3 linked regions of the Homo sapiens genome follow. The protein of the gene in region 1 purifies or fractionates together with the protein of each later gene. This does not show direct contact. Each region holds a gene or a part of one and is shown in the gene's direction. Other genes may lie near its edges.

Region 1 (6,983 bases):
CAGATGGCTACAATGAGCCTTCAAAGCCACTCCAGCAGTAGGGATAAATAATGTAATAAACTCAACTTCATATTCTTTTTATCTCCCCAGCGTAATAAGCACATATTAAAAAAATAAAACTTTAAATTCATTAATACTTGTGAATAGACTAGCAGCTAGCAGATAATGAAAAAACACCAAACAATATCTATATAAGCACTTAACATGTATGTGCATATCCTTTAACAGATACCTTTTTTCCAGATGAAAGGTTACAATTACTGAGATTTGTGAACATGCAATTCAAATTTAAATCAGGTTTTTTTCGAAAACAAAGAAATATTGCATTCTTGTATTTCTCAACATAACAGGGTTTTTCTTTAAGCTTAATAATGACACTATTTATGAATTACTTTGTATATCCCATATAAGTAAGCAGGTCTGCAGAAGTGGAGACAAGTTATTTAGGAAATACTACTTGAGGCAAAGTTGTTTTGCCACTGTTATTTCGAACGCTTCGAAGTGTTAAGGATCACAATATTTAATTATTTTATATTCACTAATACTACTAACATTTATGATAATGGTGTGCTATGTCCTTATTGCTTTTTTTTTTTTTTTTCCTAACTGGTACATTTTAAATCGAGCCTGCCTCATAAACTAAGTAAATGCAATGTAAAAGTCAGTTAGGCATTAAAATTCTAAATACCATTCAATATAAGCATTTCAAACTATCATTAAATCATGAGATTCTTGAGATTTTTTTCCTTCAATTAGGCCAGTTTTCCTCAATTATCATTCTATTATTAGCTCATGTCAAAGATGTCTGCATGCCTACCACTGAAAACAATTAAGTATTTACATCCTAAAGCATGACACACACACAATTTTATTCTAGTAGCACTGAGTATATTTACAACAAAAAATATTGCAAGACTGGTATAACTGGAGTTTTTTAAAAAAACTTTTCACATTAATACATAAATGTATATTAAGCCATCTCTATGTACTACATAATCATTTGACATAACTAGTTTAATAGGTCAAATGATATTTTTTTAAAATTCACTGAAAAATAGTTAAATATATTACTCCCATAAAATAAATATATCCCCCAAGCCTAGATTAAAATCGGCTGAACTGCACAAAAATGTACTGTTATTTGCAATCCCTCTCTATAGGTCATTTCCATAAAAAAATTTCGGGGATGGAAAACACGCTTCTCCGAATAGCTTAATTCTCGCTTCAACAATGAGGGGCGTCTACGATCACTGAAAGGATTCAGCTACAGAAGGCAATTCATTTCACGTGTTCAGTGTAATAGAAAATCACTGTGTTGCAGCAACAAGCAGTACTTGCACTAGAGTATTATTCATTCCAGGGCGCCCAGTTCACCCACAGTGATAATCGCGGACCGGTGAATCCTATGTTATGTAAATCACCTTCAGCTCCTTGTGTGAGGGGTGCTTAAGGAAGCAGCTTAGAAAACACAGTCCTGGCGTCCTTTAAACTAAATGACTTCACTTTCCTGAACACTCTAGATCTAATGAGTTTCCTAGTATACCTTTTCTCACCATCCATTTTTCTTTCTCAAAGTGCAAATCGTTAGTGAAAAGGCGCTGGTTGCACCAATTAGTTTGCACAAAGTGCTTCGGTGTTTAGCTTCGCTTTAACCCAATTAAGCTGCACAGTGAGCCCCGAAGATGCGCCACCTGCGCGCCTGGCTCCAGCCAGGCCCGACCGGCATCCCTCGCAGGCCCGCGTCCTTCCCGTTGGACCCACTTAAGGTCCCCCGAACAGCCCTGGGGCCTCCCCGTCCTCGGCTGTCTCACGTCCTTGACAACCAAGGGTGTTCTGCAGGTGGCCCAAGAAGGCAAGGGGCGAGGTCTTGGGGCAAGCATCTCTGGCCTGAACCCAAGGGAGAGAGCGCAGGGCGCAGGGGCCCGCGGCTGGGGCTTGGCTGCGACCACACCTGGGCCGGACGTGGGCGGTGCAGGCTGAGGGGTGCGTGGGCAGACCGTGGTCTGGAGCAGACGTGGAGAGTAAGCCGGGACACCAAGTAAGGTTTTCAAATAAGCTCACGCAGAAATAAAGCGTAGCGATCTTGAGCCCAGAGAGGAAAGTAAGAGGGCACGGGAATGCGGAGCAGCGAGAGAGAGGCGGCGAGCGGACGGCACAGGGCCACACGCGCCGGGTGAGGGCAGAAGGCGGCGTTTCCCCAGAGACCACTGCACATCCTCGCCGTCGTGGCTGCAGGTTCTCCGGCTCTGATGGGTCTCCCCTCCAACTGCCAAAAGGTAGTGGTGCATTCACCCGCGATGACGGCAAAGTGGGGAGGGGTTTTTTGGGTGTTCCCAGACCCTGCTCTTAAGGGGATGGAAGGTTCTTGGGAAATAGAGTAGCTGGGTGCCACGCACCCCAATGTATACTATTTTCAGCTAAATTGGAATCTATCACTGTTGGATAAGGAGAAATTAAATAATAGGTGGTTTTGTGATGCTGTGCCTGTGCAAAACAAAACACACAAACAAAAATCAAAAGCTTAAGTAGCAAGTGGGAGCCCTGAAGAATATCTTGTTAAAAGTGACTCTGAAAGTGTCTACAAACATGTTACCGGGAGTTATAGGATTTGACGGGAAATATTCTTAATTGGAAAGACGTGGCATCTAAATTAAAGGTAGACAATTAAAAAAATCCACCTAGTTTTAAAAACCACAACGTAACCACTAAGTAGTATTTCTTTAGTTTCCTGTACTTTGAGGACACAACTGGACCACCAACTAGAAAAAAAAATTCCTCCTCCTGTTTCCAGGTTCCAAAATTCAGAAATGAAATGATTTATTTCATTTTTGTTTTCAAAATGATGTTTAAATCCAAAAAACCCCCCAGATAACTGCAAGTTAATTTTCTTTGCAAATGTTAACCATTTTCCCTTAATTAAATCACACGAAATAGTATAAAATTAGAAGTCTACTGCCAGGTCACCACTTAAGGACACTTAAGACAGGAGATATATCCTTAATTATACATCTGTAAACAAGCCAGATACCCCAAACCTTCAATTTTTCGGGATAGTTATCTGTGAGGAAGCTTGATCTCTATGATCTCACCTGAATTTTATGTACTAAAATACAGGTCACTATGAAATAACGCTAAAGTACTCTGTCCATCCCACAGACAATTTATTTTTCAAATGTTTCTATAAGTGCATATATAGCGTTGTGTCCTGCTTGTAATGCTGGGCAAGTCCACCAAAGTGCAAAGACTGCATCTGCTGGGGCAGAGGGATGTACGAAATATTTTTTAAATATCCTAACTTAAACAGGGGTAGAACATCTCACACACTCAGCAATAATTTTCAGATTCAACAAATGGAGAAAAGAAAAAAACATAAGTAAAAAAAGAGCATACTACCTCCATAACGTTTCAAAAAATCATTTTAACATATAGGAACATCCAGAATGAGAAAATTACACAGGTACTCCTCCATCTAAAGCCAACTTCCATATGCCAGTAGTCTGCATGAAAGAACAAACTTTCAACCTGCATTTAAGAAGACCCCAAGGATTAACAGACGTTAATTATCTTACTCTAAATGCAAGTTAGTGATTTTGTTTTAGAAAACCCCGTCAAGATCACTAATTGATGGATGCCCATTAATACACCTGTATTTGCATTTCAGCGGTAAAAGACAAGCAGGTTTTCGGCACAGAAGAGAGCCGCTTTGCCAAGTCTTTTCAAAACGTCAATATGCTTCAAGTAATACCAAAGCTGAGAGATTCCTCTTGATTTCCAAACTGTCTAGGTGGCCTGAGTGGTTTTCCGCCGGCAGCAGCCTCCTACCTTTAGTTTGTGTGCCTATATCCATGAGTGGGGATTAATTAGCCGGGTTGGAGCTGAAGGAGGCTGTCGTGACGAGCCCAGTGGCGATTGGCCGCCCGCCTGCCTGGCCCTGCCTTTATAATTTCCACACGAGTGCATCTGGGCTCTTAGACAAACCAACAGCAGCTTCTTCTGACATATACACACGCACACTCACCCCGGACACACACTCAGCACACTTTTCCTCCATTTGATTAACAGTGCTGCACACACAATGATTACGGGAAAGCGCAAATAAATACGGAAAGGGGTGCTTATTTTGACTACTGGAAGAGCTTTGCTGGGTCTCAGCGCAACTTTTGTTTTTTATTCCTGAGAAGGTGATCTCTCCATGCGGTTCTCTCACACAAGGATTCTTTAAAAGAGGAAGAGAGACAAGCAGAGGGGGGAGGACAGTCTTTCACTTTAAGAACGGCTGGGCTCAAAGATAAAAGGAAGGGAAAAGCAGCAGCAGCAGCAGCAGCAGCAGCAGCAGCAGCAGCAGCAGCAGCAGCAGCAGCAGGGAAACCAACGCTGCAGCACTTCCGAAAGGCATTTTTGATCCATTTCTGAGTGTTGCGGCCCGTTTCTCCACCGAAGTTGGCTCCAGCTCTAGCAGCCGCATTGGATCCCACAGCTTACTGCGAGACTCCGGTGTACAATCCGGATCTCTGCCCCAACATGATTGCGGCCCAGGCCAAGCTGGTCTACCATCTGAATAAATACTACAACGAAAAATGCCAAGCCAGGAAAGCTGCCATTGCCAAAACTATCCGGGAAGTCTGCAAAGTAGTTTCCGACGTACTGAAGGAAGTGGAAGTGCAGGAGCCGCGGTTCATCAGCTCTCTCAACGAGATGGACAATCGCTACGAGGGCCTCGAGGTCATCTCCCCCACCGAATTTGAAGTGGTGCTTTATCTCAACCAAATGGGGGTGTTCAACTTCGTGGACGATGGCTCACTGCCCGGCTGCGCGGTGCTGAAGTTGAGCGACGGGCGCAAGAGGAGCATGTCCCTCTGGGTGGAATTCATTACCGCCTCCGGCTACCTCTCGGCGCGCAAAATCCGGTCCAGGTTTCAGACGCTGGTGGCTCAAGCGGTAGACAAATGTAGCTACCGGGATGTGGTAAAGATGGTGGCAGACACCAGCGAAGTGAAACTGAGAATCCGAGATAGGTACGTGGTGCAGATCACGCCGGCCTTTAAATGCACCGGGATCTGGCCGAGGAGTGCTGCCCACTGGCCACTTCCCCACATCCCCTGGCCGGGACCCAACCGGGTGGCGGAGGTCAAGGCGGAAGGTTTCAATCTCTTGTCCAAGGAGTGCCACTCCTTGGCCGGCAAGCAGAGCTCGGCGGAGAGCGACGCCTGGGTGCTGCAGTTCGCGGAGGCAGAGAACAGACTGCAGATGGGGGGCTGCAGAAAGAAGTGCCTCTCCATCCTCAAAACCTTAAGGGATCGTCACCTTGAACTGCCGGGCCAGCCCTTGAACAATTACCATATGAAGACTCTGGTTTCCTACGAGTGTGAAAAGCATCCCCGAGAGTCGGACTGGGACGAGTCTTGCCTGGGTGATCGGCTGAACGGGATTTTGCTGCAACTTATCTCCTGCCTGCAGTGCCGGCGGTGTCCCCACTACTTTCTACCGAACTTAGATCTGTTTCAAGGCAAACCTCACTCAGCTCTGGAAAACGCTGCCAAACAAACGTGGCGACTGGCAAGAGAGATCCTGACCAACCCGAAAAGTTTGGAAAAACTTTAGAGGATGATTTAATCAAGAGCCGAAATTATTACCCTTCTCAAAGTCCTTATTAAGTGTAAACTTCTGTTCAATTCCTAATATTCCACTCCGCAGTGCAAACAATCTCTTCCTTTAAAAAGGAATAATAATACAATATTTAAACATCATCTCACCCACCCCCACAAGGGGAGAAAAAGTAGGGGAAGCGGATGGAGAAAAACCCAAAGCCACTAGTATTAGAAGACTTCTTTCCACACGATTTCCTATCTCCCTTGAAAAGTACACCGTAACACTCCGTAAACAGCCCAGCTGTAACGCCAGACCGAGACGAACACTCTGCCTAACTATCAAAGGATTATAGCAATCCTGGTGATTTAGGTGCATCTGTCTGTGAGTAAACACGATTTGGATATGCCATCTGAAAGAAACTGTAATGTATATTTTGATTTGTAACAAATATTGTGATCTCACATTGTCTTTGAAAGTGTGGATGTTGGTGTTTTGTGATTTGGTGAACAGAACTTAAATTGCCATTCTGGATACTTCCAGACATTTTCCACTAACAAAGATATCATTTAAAGGTAGATTTCTTCCTGGTACTTTTATCTGTCTTTGAAAGTGTCTGAACTTTAAAAAGTTTACATTTTGTTTCAAATATTGCTTGTTCTATTTCTAACATTCCATAAATATACTTGAAATGTTATTTAAATATATTCAAAGAAATTTGAATTCAGCTTATATAATAACGCTTGAATATCTGAATTATATATTTGAAAAATGCACTTGAAATACACTGGATAATTACTTTTGTGATTTAGATTTTAATTTGTTGCTGGTTTTTATTTAATTAGATGGTAATAAATGAAGTAAAATAAAAGTTGTTGTGTCTCACTTTAAATTGTTTCCTATCACAAGATGTAATGATGCATTTTGAAAATCAAACCCACTTGAATATCTTAAATATTTTGAGAAATATGCTAATGAAATCCTTAAAAATAAAACATTGGAGAAAAGCTCTTTCTGTATAGGTCCATAAGATAACAATCTACTCTCAGTCTCTAACTTACTTGTAAGACAATTCCTTTCTACAACAGAAACAATTTAAATCTACCTTTGAAAGCTTGCTCTTCTTGTAGCATTTTTGATAATATAAGAAAAAAAGTCTATCATGACAGTAGAGATGACTGAGTTAAAAATCTGACTAATTCAGAGGAAATGAACTTAACAAAGTCATAATGAAACTTCGAAAATTATGTATGAAAACTAATAAAACGATCCTTTCTGACCAATATATTTTATGTCAAACCTTATTTTATGTAATAAGGGTTCCATTAGCAGAATAAATTCATTAGAAATTCAACATTTCTTTTTGACTTCATAGGGCAAGCTAATAAAAGGATGAA
Region 2 (7,028 bases), on another chromosome or scaffold:
ACTGAAAAGTGTGGCCAAGATTCTCCCCCTGCTCGTTAGAAACCTGGTGTTTTTTTAAATAGTGTCTTGTTGCTGTGCAGAGTTCCTCTGCTCCTTGAAATCTGACAGGCAATGAGTCTGCTCCAGTGATCTTAAATCCTTTTAGACTAATTTGTGAGAGAGTAGCAAAGTACTGTAGCTAGCACCTTTGAGTCCAGCATCCAAGAGGCACAGAACCAGGTATTGCCAATTAAGGAGCCATTCCGATAATCGTATCAAAGCAGATTGCTTTAGAGTCTTATAATGCCCGAGCCTGTGCCTAGAGAGAGAGGAACCCAGAGTTTCACTTCAATGAGGGGGAAAAAAGAGACTGGAGTGGCCCGGTCTCATCAGAGCCCAGGAAGTTGCAGGGAGAGGATTTCTGCATTAGAATGTTGCATATGTGCGGCCTGTGTGTGCGCAGCCCCGGCCGCTGCCTCTGCATAGCCAAAGGCCATTTTCAGGAGCCTCTGGCCCCTCAGTCACTGGCCTGCTAGTTAATTGCCACACGGACTTCATGACACATGGGCAGATAATATGACATTTTCAGTTTCTGTCACTAGCAAACGCCACAACGTTGCTTGCACTAGTTGCTAAGAAGCTGTCAGAAACCATTAGCGGTTGGCTAAAGTCGCCCTATGGCATTTCCTCATAGCATCAGCAAAACGAGCATAAATCACCCACTGGAGCCTACTGCTATCCTAATGAGGCTGTAAGCTTGTTTATGGACTAGCATCATTTTTATGATTATTTCCACCTTTTCAGTTTGCCTTCATTTGGCGGCAGGAGAAGTCAGCTCCAGGAATGAAGTCACTGCTGACATTTTACAAATGTGGTTCAGAGCTGCTGCCTGCTGCCGTGTGGTCGGCCGGCGGTTCTCCAAGTTTGTTTAGTGATCTCAAAAGTAAAAAAGGAAAGAAATTCTCGAGAGACCACATTGAGGTGACTATATCAAATTGCGGAGTGAATGGAAATGCTAAAGGTACAATTGACCATTTAGACTTTCCTCTGAGGTTGAGACATTTCCAGATCAATTTTCAATTTTAGAAAGTGGAAGAGGTTAAACAATTTATTAAAATCTATGAAAGTGTTTGCTTTTAGAATAGTCTGTTTTATTATGCTCTTCTCCTTCCCCATCTTCTCCATTTCCCTAACTTGTGTCGGAAAGGAGCAGGGTTTATTGTTTTAGGCTTTTCTGAACATGCACCAGTATTTACACTGGATTGAAAGCATTTGCTTCCAATGAAAATCTTGTCTTAGATTACAACCCAGCAGTGTAATTTCCCTCCCAGATGGGAGTAAAGTAGCTGTATTTGCCTAAAAACAGTAGGAAGAACAAACTGTGCATTAAGCCAAGGCTGTTTTTGGCTTGAGCTAATGATGTAATAGAAACCTTTTATTCAGGAGAGGTCACTGCCAGGGACTGAAGGGGGTGATCTGGCTCCTGCTTGAAAGGTTTCTCCATTGTATCTACATAAGTCTTCACTTAAAAAATTCTGTTCCTAATGCTTCTGCTTTCATACAGCAGAAATAAACAGGAAAGGTTCTGGTGAGTGTTACACATGGAATGCAGAAAGCCTTCCTCTCCTAATGGAGTATATAATTCAGGTGCCCTCAAGGCACGCTTTCAGGAATTCTTTTGCCTGAGGTAATGGGAAGCTAAGGTTGCTTTAAGGCCTTGATTATCTATTGATGCACAAAGCTGGAAAAAAGTCATCTCTGCTGGATTATAGTAGATATTTCCATAAATTATCAATGAATTCTCTTCTAGGCAGGCACTATGCATTGCTTGCTAAATTAATCTGAAGGGGTTTGAGGTGGATAAAAAGGCTATTTTTTTTAAAGGTGGAAAATAATCATGGGGAGGTGGTGAAAACAGTATTGTAAGGTTATAAGCTTTTCATTTTTAATCAATGATCAGGTCGTATGTGTCTTTTCCTTGGTTACCTTTTGCATATTGAAAGTGGATTAGCCCATTGAAAATTTAAATGCTGTTGAGTTGTTTTCTTTTCTCATGTTTCTTTAATGAATTGTTATTTTATATGGTAAACTGCTTCTCTGAATAAAAAGGCTGTTTAAATACTGGACTTTCAAAGAATTTATTAGGCAAATCCAAGGGGACTTCTCATAAAATACTTGGTTATGCAAATAAAGAGTTTGGTTGGGTGGAAGGAGTGCTGATTTACAGATGTAGGGGTCTGGAACAGCACAGACCCCAGTAGTTCCATGCCAGGGTACATGACCTTGGCCCAGTCAGAGAACATAGCATTTTCTTCACTGATACAACAATGGCTTTGGAGTGGTGGGTTTTCATGATCTTTTCCAAGTGAACACAAGATATGTTTCTGTTAAACTTTTAATGAAACAGATAGATTTTAAATATAATAAAATTACAGATTTTTAATGAATAAAAGTTTAGAATCAGAAAAGTTTTGCAAAAGTTTTGCATTTATAGCATATTCTGTAATAATAGTAGAAATGTTGGAATTAGTTTGTTCCTCACCCAACAAACTTTCTAAACTTCATCTCAGTACAAGTTAAGGCAATTGAAAAAAAAAAATTGAGGAATGCTTTTCTTTTCTTTTTTTCACAGGAGAGAGATGGGTCTGCTGAGGGAGCTGTTAAAAACAGTTGATTAGTTGCAACATACCTACTATAGATTAGACAGAAATAACTGAAATTGAACTAGAGAATTATTTTTTTATGTAGGACCTAATAACAGAAATGAGAAATACAGAAATTCATGAAGCCATGGAAATGAACCTGAGGCTATGTGCAGGAAACTTGTCTTACCAAAGTTTCAGGTTCTTTGGGTCGTGTAGTTGGCTCTCCAGTGGCTTATTTAACCCAGTGAATGTGCTCTTGGGTGTATTTTTTTTTTACCTCATTTCTAAGCCTGGCTGCTATAGCTCTTCCGTTTGGGCCCAGATCAACCTGTCGGTTTCTAAGAGAACGGTTGACCGAGCTAAGCTACTTTTTAGTGTAATGGGTCTTGTCCTTTGTTGTTTTCCTTTTTGACTTTGATGCCAAGGCAAAAAATACCTACTTTCCATTTGTACCTTGTAACTTATTTTGAACAGTTATATGGGTTAAATTTTTATTTTTTCTTATTAAACATGGCATTTTAAAAAAGAAATACTAACTTTTTAAATTTCATTATGTCACAGAGCCAAAATATTTTCTAGAATAAAGAGTGTAAATGTTATAATAAAAATCAATAGAAAAATAGGATCCAATATAGAGGAATATGTTAGCAGGTGATTTTTCAGTGTGAAAAATGCTAGGTTTACCTAGCATGAATTTTAGAAACTGCCTGAATTATTAGTGTAATACAATTCTAATTTACTATTAATTTAGCATTACCTTATTTGATTTACACAGTAATTGTTTTTTAATTAAGAAACTATGTCAGGGGTTTTTCCTTTACTAAACTTGATGCTTTCTCTCTATTACAAGAAAAATTATATTTTATTTGAAGCATTCCTATGTCAAACTGCTTATATGATGGATTACCTACATTTCCCCATCCTAGTTTAACTAGTCTTAAGATAGATCACTTGTGGAAATAGTTGATATCTTAAATGAATCTTCTCACAAGTCAATGTCAATGACTGTGGGATTTGAATGCCCAGGCAGCCATAGCGCCACAGCTAATGACTGCCACCATGTTTAACTCCCCGGTAGGAGTTACACTTAACCTGTCTCAGCTATACATATTGGAATAATTACCATAGCAACAAAGCCACAAGGGGATTGGATATTTCCCTCCATTCCCTTTGACTTTTGGCAATGTTCTTTGGAAGAAGTTCTTTAGACCTGACTGCTCTTGAGCCTAGGCCTTGTTCTTTCTCTGTCTTGGAAAACAAAACACAACAAAAAAACAGTACCAAAGAAACTATTAATCATTTAAATTTGCTCTTTTGGTTTTGTTTATATCCAAAGGCATTCTATTTGAATAAAGCATGTCAAGGTAGCATCAGTCAAAATTTGATTCGCTATGTTTGCAGGTGATGGCTTGGACAACAGTGTAGCTTCCCCCAGCACAGGTGACGATGATGACCCTGATAAGGACAAAAAGCGTCACAAAAAGCGTGGCATCTTTCCCAAAGTAGCCACAAATATCATGAGGGCGTGGCTGTTCCAGCATCTAACAGTAAGTGGATTCTAAATGACATATATAAACTAAATATGGACAATGAACCAGTTTTTATACAAAAAAATGAGAAAAAAGTGATCCCTCTGGACTTGAAATATTTAATAAATAACTGTGTTCCCACAGTTTTTGCAAAAGTATTAGCACTTATTTCTTAGATAGATACCCCAAATGAGAAATTTTATTTAAAATTCACGATTGCGATTTTGTTAACTTTCATAAGTTAAAAGATTTAGGTGTTCATGTGCACTTGTGATTTTAAGTATGTGTTTTAATGATGTTGCTTTTCTAAGTGTGACCCTTAAGTGCTCAGAACCATCTCCTACTAAGAAGAAAGTTAGACAAACCCTAGAGAGAGACTTAATATCTTCTGATGCTTTAGTGGATCTTTACAACAAATGGTCCACAAAAATTTAAATCATGTTGCAATGGCAAGATGATCACATAATTTGCTTTTAAGTGGTTTGAATGCACTGGCTTCCATTACAAAACATTCATGTAAGTCAGAGCTCCACAGTGAAAGTTGTCCCTGTATTTAGAACTGTAAAGGAAAACAGCAATATAGAGTCAGCTCTTCCTGTGTAGTCCCTTGTGACTTTTCAAGCAGAGTAACAGTTTATATTGTCTGTGCCAGTATTGCTGTTTTCACTGCAGGAATTCTCCTGGAGATGTGAGAAACTGGAGATTTGGGGCTTTATGCCACTGGGGGATTTGTTTTGTTTGGTTATTGTTCTGAATGAATTTCATGTTCAAAATATTTATAATAATAATATTTTGGTGGATATTTTTGTAAGTGCATACCAATTTAAAGAAGAAGATACAATGAAGATTTGTGGATAAAATAATATTTTAAAAATCAACAAAATTGTTGACCAGAGGAATTTCAATATTAGAGACAAAGGATGAATTTAGACAGGTTGTAGCAAAGTTACATAGATGGATAAATGTTAAAAACTCTTGAGGGTTGTTTTTTAATATCAGGAGAAAATATTTTGTGTTACTATTTTTGTCTTAGCTTGCTTTTCCTAAAGTCAATTTTTCCTTAAATATTAAAGTTAATCTTGCATTGTCATAAACACTTGCAGAGCCTGTTTACCTTCATACCTGGGCCCACATTCAAAGCCATGTTCCTCAGTGAGTTTTACGGGTACAGAGATACAAACTCAGGGGATGTCTGCAGGTCATGTTAGTTCTGCTCCTCTGGATAGAGGCTGTGCCTCTAATAATACTCAAGGGTATAAATTAATCCAGATTTTCCAGCATCAGTGAATAAGATAAAAGCTGAGAGCAGCAGGAATAGCTAAAAAAAAAAAAAAGTTTCCTCCCTTCTCTTCTTCCCATAATAATTCCAAACAGTATCTAGACTACACTACAGTTTTTGAGTAAACTTCAGGGCTTGGCTATGCTGGAAATTAGTTGGAGATTTAGATTATTTGAGCTGTTTTGATTTTAACATCATATTAGGTTTACCTAGAATCTGATTCAGGCACCACTACTTATCTGACACCTGTTGCATGTGTGTAGATATTTCAATATCTGACTCCTGCAAATTCCCCACTGAGGATTATCAATCACTAATGAACTAGGGGAAAGAGGACTCAGGTCTTGAGGGCATATCATGAAAAACGAATGATATGACATTTAGATAAGAAGTGGCAATTGGTCAAAGGTGTGGTACAATGATGCTGATGCAATGATGCTAATATTTTATCTCCAGAAATAACCAGCTAACTCGCTGTGTGGAATGAGTTGGTGTGGTGGATAAAATCAGGTTGGCCCTGAAGTCACAATCAAATAATTTCTATTTCCTATAGACTAACAGAAACAATGAATAGATTTCTTCAGCCCCCATCTCAATCTGCAAAGGAGTTTTGGCTTTACTTGAAGCTGAGGTGCCCCTGAATAAAATATAATCAAATATTGGTTCAGACAGAATCAGGAGAGAGAGAAGCAAGCTATTTTATGCAGCCACTAGTTTTCCTGTTTTTCTAGGTTGTACCCTTGTGAAGACCCTTGCATAGAGCTACATTATCTTCTTGAAACAAACAAACAAACAAAAAACCCAAATAAACTTTCTAACAGCCCGCATGATTTTACATGCATTGCATTGCTTATATGGACTATGTGTTTGTTACTGGGGCAATTGTAATCGAAATTATTCATGAACTGCCTGATTTCTTGAGACCTAAATAATAGTCTTCAGTTTTGAGGTCTTTGCTGGCCTGTGCCACTGCCCTGGAAGGGGAAGCCCATTCATCCATGTTTCCCCAGCTTTCTGTGAATGTTTATAGGTGTTACCTTGTGGTTTCCATTGGATATTTCTACCTCCATTACCCACTCCAATGCCATCTGCTCATACAGAAATATTGATTAATGATAATGGTCTGTAGATAGCTAATTGTTCTTATAACATCATCTGAAGAGCAAAGTTAAGAGATATGTTTAAATTTTTCATCTTTTCCTTCCCCCAATGAAAAAGATTCCTTCCCACTTCTCTAATTGCAAGAGCAAATAGACCTCCAGCTATAAGGAACACCCGTTACCCTTGTTTTGTAATCCTTCTTGAAGGAATGCATGGACTGCTTAGGTAATATTTATAGTAAGGAGCTAATTTTAATAAATTCTATTTTAAAAACCTATAGAATCTAAAGAGAGTTTTGTTGTTGTTTGTCTAAATGTAAGTAACCACTGACATCTCAGTACTAATTCTTTAGTGACTTTATTTCAAGTTCTGGGAGGTCTTCAGGGATGCACAATTCATTAGGAAGACTGTACAAATTTTAAATGGTCACGTCATTGCTATGTGATTAATGCAACTTATCTAGGAAATCCTTTCTGAATTCTTGCTAGATGTAAA
Region 3 (7,028 bases), on another chromosome or scaffold:
GGAGGTGGAGGTTCCAGTGAGCCAAGATCACACCACTGCACTCCAGCCTGGGTGACAGAGTGAAACTCCATCTCAAAAAAACAAACCAAGATGGCCCGAATTTTGAAACTTTATACTCCTCACTACTCTGCAAAAATATCTGTGACCACTCTTCTGTTCGGTGCCCAGATGGTACACAATGAAGTATTGAGCAAATGCTTTTAGCGTTGGTTTTGGCATCCAGCCCCTTTTGGTAAATCTGCTCCAAATTCACCTTTTGCTCAAAAATTTGTCTTCTCCCAGAAGTAGATTTATTCTCTCCCATTTTATATTTATTTGGTGTGAGCCTTTTTGTTATTATTTCCTTTCTCTTTACAAAGGCGGAAGAGACGGAATTTCAACAAGCAAGCGACAGAAATCCTGAATGAATATTTCTATTCCCATCTCAGCAACCCTTACCCCAGTGAGGAAGCCAAAGAGGAGTTAGCCAAGAAGTGTGGCATCACAGTCTCCCAGGTAAGCAGCACCTCAAAAGCCTCAGCCTGTAGCCTGGCCATGGCGGGGCCTCCGGGGCAGGCTCTTAGAGGTCTTGCTTTACTGGACATTCATGCCTTGCAAGTTCCATCAGCTATAGCCTTAAAATATCAAGGTAAGCACTTGATGTGTATGCGTATAAGTGAGTTTCTAGGTAAGTACTTGGCAAAACTTGAGAAGAACCAGCAGAAGGAAGAGAAGAATAAGTAGAGTACAATGTAAAAACAGGATTAGGGTTCTTCCCATCGAGCACTCCTTTGCTTCAAATGGGTGAGGTGTCTAAAGTGTACTAGGAAAGTTATCTGCATTCCTCATGCTGTTTTTTCAAATTCAGTCAATTCCTTAGCCATTTTTTGCCCAACCCAGGAACTTTAAGAGTCAGTGAATGGAACTAGTTGTTATATAGCCTTTTAAATGAAAGAACTTAAATGTCTCCTCTTGATGTGCTGACTCTATAACTGATGGGAGTGTAGGAATTTTAACATGTCACTGCGATTACATTGGAATGGTGAACAAAATGTCACTGAATGCCCCCTTCCCCCAAAGAGCAATAACCATAACAGGTGGTGTCTGATGACTTGGAAAGATACATGACATAAAATTTTTATAGGCCTAGAGTTTTCAACACGAATATGAAGCAGAGAAGTAGGCAATAATTATGTGTACGTGTATTTTGTCCACTCAAAAGATCCACCCAAACTTCTTATTCAGTCTGAACCTCAAATACCACCACTGGTTTCTAATTGAGAACCATAGTGATAATTCTGAAATCTATCGGAGAAGGTTTTTCTTAGAATTTTGTCACATGCAGGAGAATTAAATGTACTGATATTTCCATTAAAACTGGGGAGGGGAGGGAGTAGTGAAGGCTACTGTAGCGAGAAATTTCACTTACCATTTTTCAAATGAAGTAGATGCTCTTTTATATAAACTAAGCATCTGTACCTCCTTGAATTGAATCCTGACTTCTGTTAATCCCTGCAGGGTGCTGATCCCATCAACCTGTGTTTAGCTGTACAGAATTAGGTCCAGTCAGAATATAGAGCTCCACAAAAGTATTGACAATGAAGGGACTGTCCAAGCCTTCCCAACAAACTAAGATGATTTTACAGCAGCAAATATCCTTGAAAACATTCTTTCAGATAAAGCAGAATGAATTGACTCCTTTTTAACCTGGGCCTTCCTTAGGTGCTTTGACCCAGCTGGAGGTCATTTTTAGTCTTGACAGTTCTGGGAAACGGGAACGTCAGCGGTCAAACTCAAGTAGCCTAGTTTTTTCTAGGGCTGTCACCATTCTTATCCAAATCTAAACCCCTTTTCCACAAAAAAGGGAATTAATGCTTTTTGATACTTGCTACATGTTTGAGGAATGCTTCTAGGTATGGACCACAAATATGCAGCAAATATCAAATCACTGAATTTTATCATGGAACCTTCTGCTTTTAAAATATAATTAAATTACTACTGTCTGAATTCCAAGTGTGGAATTCAGAATTTCAACTTCCTGTTGAAGGTAAAAGGAATTCTCCTGGAGGTAATTTGTAGTATAGCTGGATACAAGTTAAAATCCTGATCTGTTCCCGCAACCTTCACTTCCTTCATTATGGAAACTCAAGGTACAAATAGTGTGTCCATTAAAATCCTTATTTACATATTGTGTCACCTTTCCCTTTCCTCTGTCCATGCCAAAGTCATGCCATTCTTTCTTCCCCATCACATCTGTCTCTCCCCAAAGCAACTAAGCTACCATTGCTAAACAAGTCCAATGGAAGACAGTATAATATGATGTCATAGAAGGAGCATTAAGCAAGGAGCCTATTTTTGACAAGAGTCAACTGTGGGATCCTAGGGAACTCACTCTTTCTTTTTGGATCTTAGTTGCCCCATTTACTAATCATGGTTTGTTGGATCACATGATTTATTAAATCTTTCTCCTAATTCCCAAAGCCAGGGAATACCTCTTGGGCTGTATCATTATTGTCTTTTTTTGAAGTCACAAATTCTTTTGAAATCTACTAAAAGCTATTGATTTCCCCCATGACCCAAAACAAAGATATGTTGCCCATACACCCAAATCCATCTGAAATCCGCCTATTGACTGTATCTCCTCAGATCCCTAAAGAGCCCTTTTTCTATACCAGAGCTACTCTAAGTGTGATCCACAGAATGCAGCATCAGCATCCCCTGGGAGCCTGTTAGAAATATAAATTCTTGAGTGTCACCCTAATTCTGAATCAGAATCTTTGAGGGTGAAATCTATAATAGAAATTTGTTTTAACAACTTCCCCATGAACACTTAACTTTGAAAAGCAATGTTCTATATGCTTTATCTGAGTGATCTTTTCCATGCTCACAGCTACAAATAATACCTCCATTTGAATACCTAATGGAACTTCTCCCCTGCAGCACCAAACTCATAAATTTTACTTCCTAATGGACTTCATCATGGCTCTGCCCAGAGGTTCTTCAAAATTAACTTGTTCAAAATGTGAATCAAACTCTTCCCATAAAACCTACTATTCTTTCTGTATTTCATGTCTCATTCTGTGTCTGTTATCTATACATCCCTAGTGCCTAACGCGTATTAGGCCCTTAGTCCATGACTGTTGAGTAATTAGTTCATTCATGATAACACTCATTTTATACATTGTCCAGATCATTGTCTGTTGGACAATGCAGGAAGTCCCTGAACTGACCTAGCACCTTCCTACCAGTTCCATTGTTGTCATTTAGAAGGGTATCATTCCCACAACATGTCCCCTCTTTACCCCCTTCAGCTCATATTTTTTTTACATATAATTGGACCTCAGGTATTTCTTCTTCAAAAGTCCTCTGAAATTATCTTCATCTTTTTCCCTTTTCTTTCAGCTTGTGCAGTTATCTGAGAAAAAAAATCTCCTTACCTTTTTTCTTCTTTTCCTATCCCATAAATCAAAAAGCAACCATAATTATGACTGATTCCTATGAATAGTGAAAGTTATGTCAAGAAAAACATAAATTTCAAAGTGAAACTAGATATGCAGTGATCCTGAAATACACCCAAAAGTGTCCTTCCTCCTCCAGTTTACCTCTTTTTCTGTAGACATCAGTGTTTACAATAAATAAAGCATTTTCTTATTGAATTTTTTTCTTTTTTGTTTAATATTGTGGTGGTACAGACTGATTTTTTTTTAAAAAAGAAAGGCTTGGCATTTCTGCTGTAGTATAAACTGTATAAGCCTTTCAGTGCTATCCTTATAAGATGTTTTAAGTTTGTTAATGCGTTTAAAAAATTAAGTATAGTTTTGCAACAGTTTTCTTTATCTGCCGTCGTTGGGAGTTAAATATCAATGATATGTAAGCTGTGGTACATGTGGGATCAACTCCCCCTTCCCTCACCAGATTCATAGTTTGTTTTGTAATTATATAAAAACATCGACATTTTAGTTCAAAATCATATCTGGAATGTGGGATATAAAACTTTCCTTCCCCGGGCAGGAATTATGGGGGTAAAACTTGAATTTAACTGTGTCTCCACTTGTGTCTGGCAGAGGTCTTGGTATGAAGGGAGCAGAGGTACCAGATCAAGCCAAGACACCTGCTGCGAACCACATGAAGGAAATAAATTAACAAATGAAAGTAAATTAGGTTTATTGTGTCTGCTGGCTTTAACATTTAAACCCTAGAATTCAAGGGGATAATCATTTGTATGCTACAGTTTTTCCTTATGTAGATAACACTAAGCTTTACACAAAATAGTCAGTGAAATCTGGTAGATTGAATTATATTGATCCTAAGGTCTATAGTGAAATACAGCTAAGAATCTCAGTCCACATTAAAGTTATGTAACTTCTAAAAATTTGCAATTAATCTATCACACGAAAGCACCTATATGGACATTTAAAGATCTGTGTATCTTGATGGCATCAAGCCAGCTTTCACATTGATAAACGCTAGGGGCATTTCTCCTGAAATGTTAGGTATATTTTAGTGTCATAACTGAAGATGTAAGCAAATTTAAAATGCTTGCTCTAAATTAAAAGGGTTCTAGCTTAAATGAGCAGCTCCTTTATAGGAAGATTTTTGTCACAGTGGTTTCGCTAAATTTCAGTTATATTAAACAAGAGAATCGCATTTTATGTAGTTGTCCTTTTGAAGCTCTTACTTCAGATCTTTTTACTGATGTTGCCAAATTATTATAGGATAAGACCAATTAGCTTACCTCTTCACCTCTCCCATAAAGCCTTTTTTTTCTTCTGCAATGTTTCTGAAGGATGAAATGTGAACTTTCTCATCTTCTCTTAAACTACTCTAGGTATCAAACTGGTTTGGAAATAAGCGAATCCGGTACAAGAAGAACATAGGTAAATTTCAAGAGGAAGCCAATATTTATGCTGCCAAAACAGCTGTCACTGCTACCAATGTGTCAGCCCATGGAAGCCAAGCTAACTCGCCCTCAACTCCCAACTCGGCTGGTTAGTTTTTTCTTTGATTGGGGGTGGGGGAAGGAATTGTTCTCCATTTTTATACTGGCTGTTCCTACATTGGGATTTTCTTTTAATTTGTTAGGCTTTTGATTGGTTAATTTCTGTATTTGATTGTATTTTTGGATGTTAATGTCACTTTGGGCTCTTTCTTTCATTTCCAAAGAGCAATCTGTTAGACTTTTTACAACGTGGGTTGTCTGGAGGTTTGCATTAATTTGTCTATTAAGTTAAGACCAAAGTAAATTGGTTAGCTTGAAGAGACCTCTAAATTCTCCTCTCAGGGATATCAATAAGTAAGTTAGACATAGTGCTTAGAGATAGTCTATTGGGATTCTGTCATTTGGCCTGTTTTATATAAAGCTTTTATCCTTGTCAGTTTTGCTGTTCCAACAACATAATGTCTGGGTCACTTATTAGCATGCATTCTATGCAGAAATATTTACTCTTCTAGCAAATATCTTATTAGAATGCTTTGGTATGCAAAGCCAGGCTATGAATATTTCTATATATTGTTTATAGTTGTTGTTCTTTATTGTTTTTTGTTGGTCTTCTTTATGATTATCGGTCATGAGCTATGTAATAGGCTTTGTTTCAGGAAATATGCATTATATCACTAATTTAAGAGTTTAGGTCAAAATACTATATTTTGGGGTGTGCCTTGTGTCATCAGTTCAGAATTTCTACATGTGAAAAAATGTAGTTAATAATGCAAAAAATATAACCTTTGTGTTTGTATGCTATGGAAGGCATGTGGTAATTTTTTTTTCCCTTTGGTAAAGGAAAGACAAGTATTTTCTCATTAAATAAGTTTGGTTTGACTTTGATTAGGGTGCACAGCTAAGAAAACTGATGATTCTAACTTAAAAGGTTACCAATTTAAATATGTTTGATCGTAATATGATTACAAACCTAATGTCTAACATTTTTTAGAGTATGTGGTATCTTTGACCACAAAGCTTGTTTGTCCACTAAAATAAGTTTTCTTACAGCGACTCGTTACTGGAGAAATGTAGGGTTCCACAGACTGATGTCTTCTGTGAGCTTCCAGATGCATAAATTTGTTATGATAAGGTCCTCCAAGTCACTGGGCTATACCCAGCACTTCTTTTGTGGCCTTCTTTTATCTAAATGGAATCATGCATGAAGAGTAGCCTGGGCTTTTTCAACATGGATATAATAAAACAATGTAGAATTCAATCCAGTTTTAATTTTCCCAGCACTGCAGGTTAGATTCCTATGAGGAGCATATTTACTTTTTTAGAAATATTTTGTTTTTTTCTTCCTCCATCATGGTGTGATTGACAAGGGATCAAAGCTAACAGGTTCAATAACCAGAGAGAGTTCCATCTTCTCCATCTGGTCAATTATTAAGAATTTCAGACCCAACAACACCAGTTGAACTGTGCTGCTAGGCAGACATTTTCACTTGTCTCTTTGGAAGAAGTACAATTCTGTCAACATTAGCAAAAATGCACTCAACACTCCTGCAAAGGTTATCATAATGCAAAACGATATCAAAATGACTTTTTCCTGTCCCTGGTATATCTGCATCGCAGATGGCTTAGCATGATTTATGACTAGTCCTTAGAAAAGCCCTGTGGACTTTCTTCATTACTAAATTTGTAACTATTTATTCTTTCCTAAAGCCCTTAAAAGAGAAAAATAAGCATTTTAACCCTCTATTCTGTGTTTAAGAAATATGGTTGCCTCTTATGGAATGTCAGACTATGATTACAGTTTTCTAAGGAATTTTTTTCTGGTGGCTTAAACATCATGTGACTATTCTGAGCACAAAGTAAATTATTATGGAAAATTTGAGCTAAGCCTTCCAATTGTGCGTAAGTTGTTGGAAATAATCTGCACAGGAACCCCTTTGTAGTGCTTTTTCTAAAGTAGAGGCAAAAGAAAATACTATTGTATGTGTGCAATAGCATGGAATTTTAAAAGATAAACATTTTAACAGGAAAAGTTATAAATGGGCTTTTCTGTATTTTCTTTTGCTCTTAACCAACCTAAATCATCCACACAGGTAAAGTAGAACTTTAAAAT

What was found. Proteins that work in one complex are often made in the same cells at the same time.
Region 2: the proteins of MAB21L1 (region 1) and MEIS1 purify together in Homo sapiens (affinity purification with mass spectrometry; 3 studies listed by BioGRID and IntAct, with this or other methods). This does not show direct contact.
Region 3: the proteins of MAB21L1 (region 1) and PBX1 purify together in Homo sapiens (affinity purification with mass spectrometry; 3 studies listed by BioGRID and IntAct, with this or other methods). This does not show direct contact.

Annotation. Positions count from the first base shown.
Region 1 is NC_000013.11:35,473,677-35,480,659, reverse strand, and holds MAB21L1 (putative nucleotidyltransferase MAB21L1), read left to right. Parts: upstream 1-3,970; 5' UTR 3,971-4,521; coding exon 4,522-5,601; 3' UTR 5,602-6,871; downstream 6,872-6,983. UniProt on the Homo sapiens protein: Putative nucleotidyltransferase required for several aspects of embryonic development including normal development of the eye. It is unclear whether it displays nucleotidyltransferase activity in vivo. Binds single-stranded RNA (ssRNA).
Region 2 is NC_000002.12:66,508,124-66,515,151, forward strand, and holds part of MEIS1 (homeobox protein Meis1), read left to right. Parts: intron 1-4,025; coding exon 4,026-4,171; intron 4,172-7,028. UniProt on the Homo sapiens protein: Acts as a transcriptional regulator of PAX6. Acts as a transcriptional activator of PF4 in complex with PBX1 or PBX2. Required for hematopoiesis, megakaryocyte lineage development and vascular patterning.
Region 3 is NC_000001.11:164,807,183-164,814,210, forward strand, and holds part of PBX1 (pre-B-cell leukemia transcription factor 1), read left to right. Parts: intron 1-359; coding exon 360-495; intron 496-4,807; coding exon 4,808-4,967; intron 4,968-7,028. UniProt on the Homo sapiens protein: Transcription factor which binds the DNA sequence 5'-TGATTGAT-3' as part of a heterodimer with HOX proteins such as HOXA1, HOXA5, HOXB7 and HOXB8. Binds to the DNA sequence 5'-TGATTGAC-3' in complex with a nuclear factor which is not a class I HOX protein.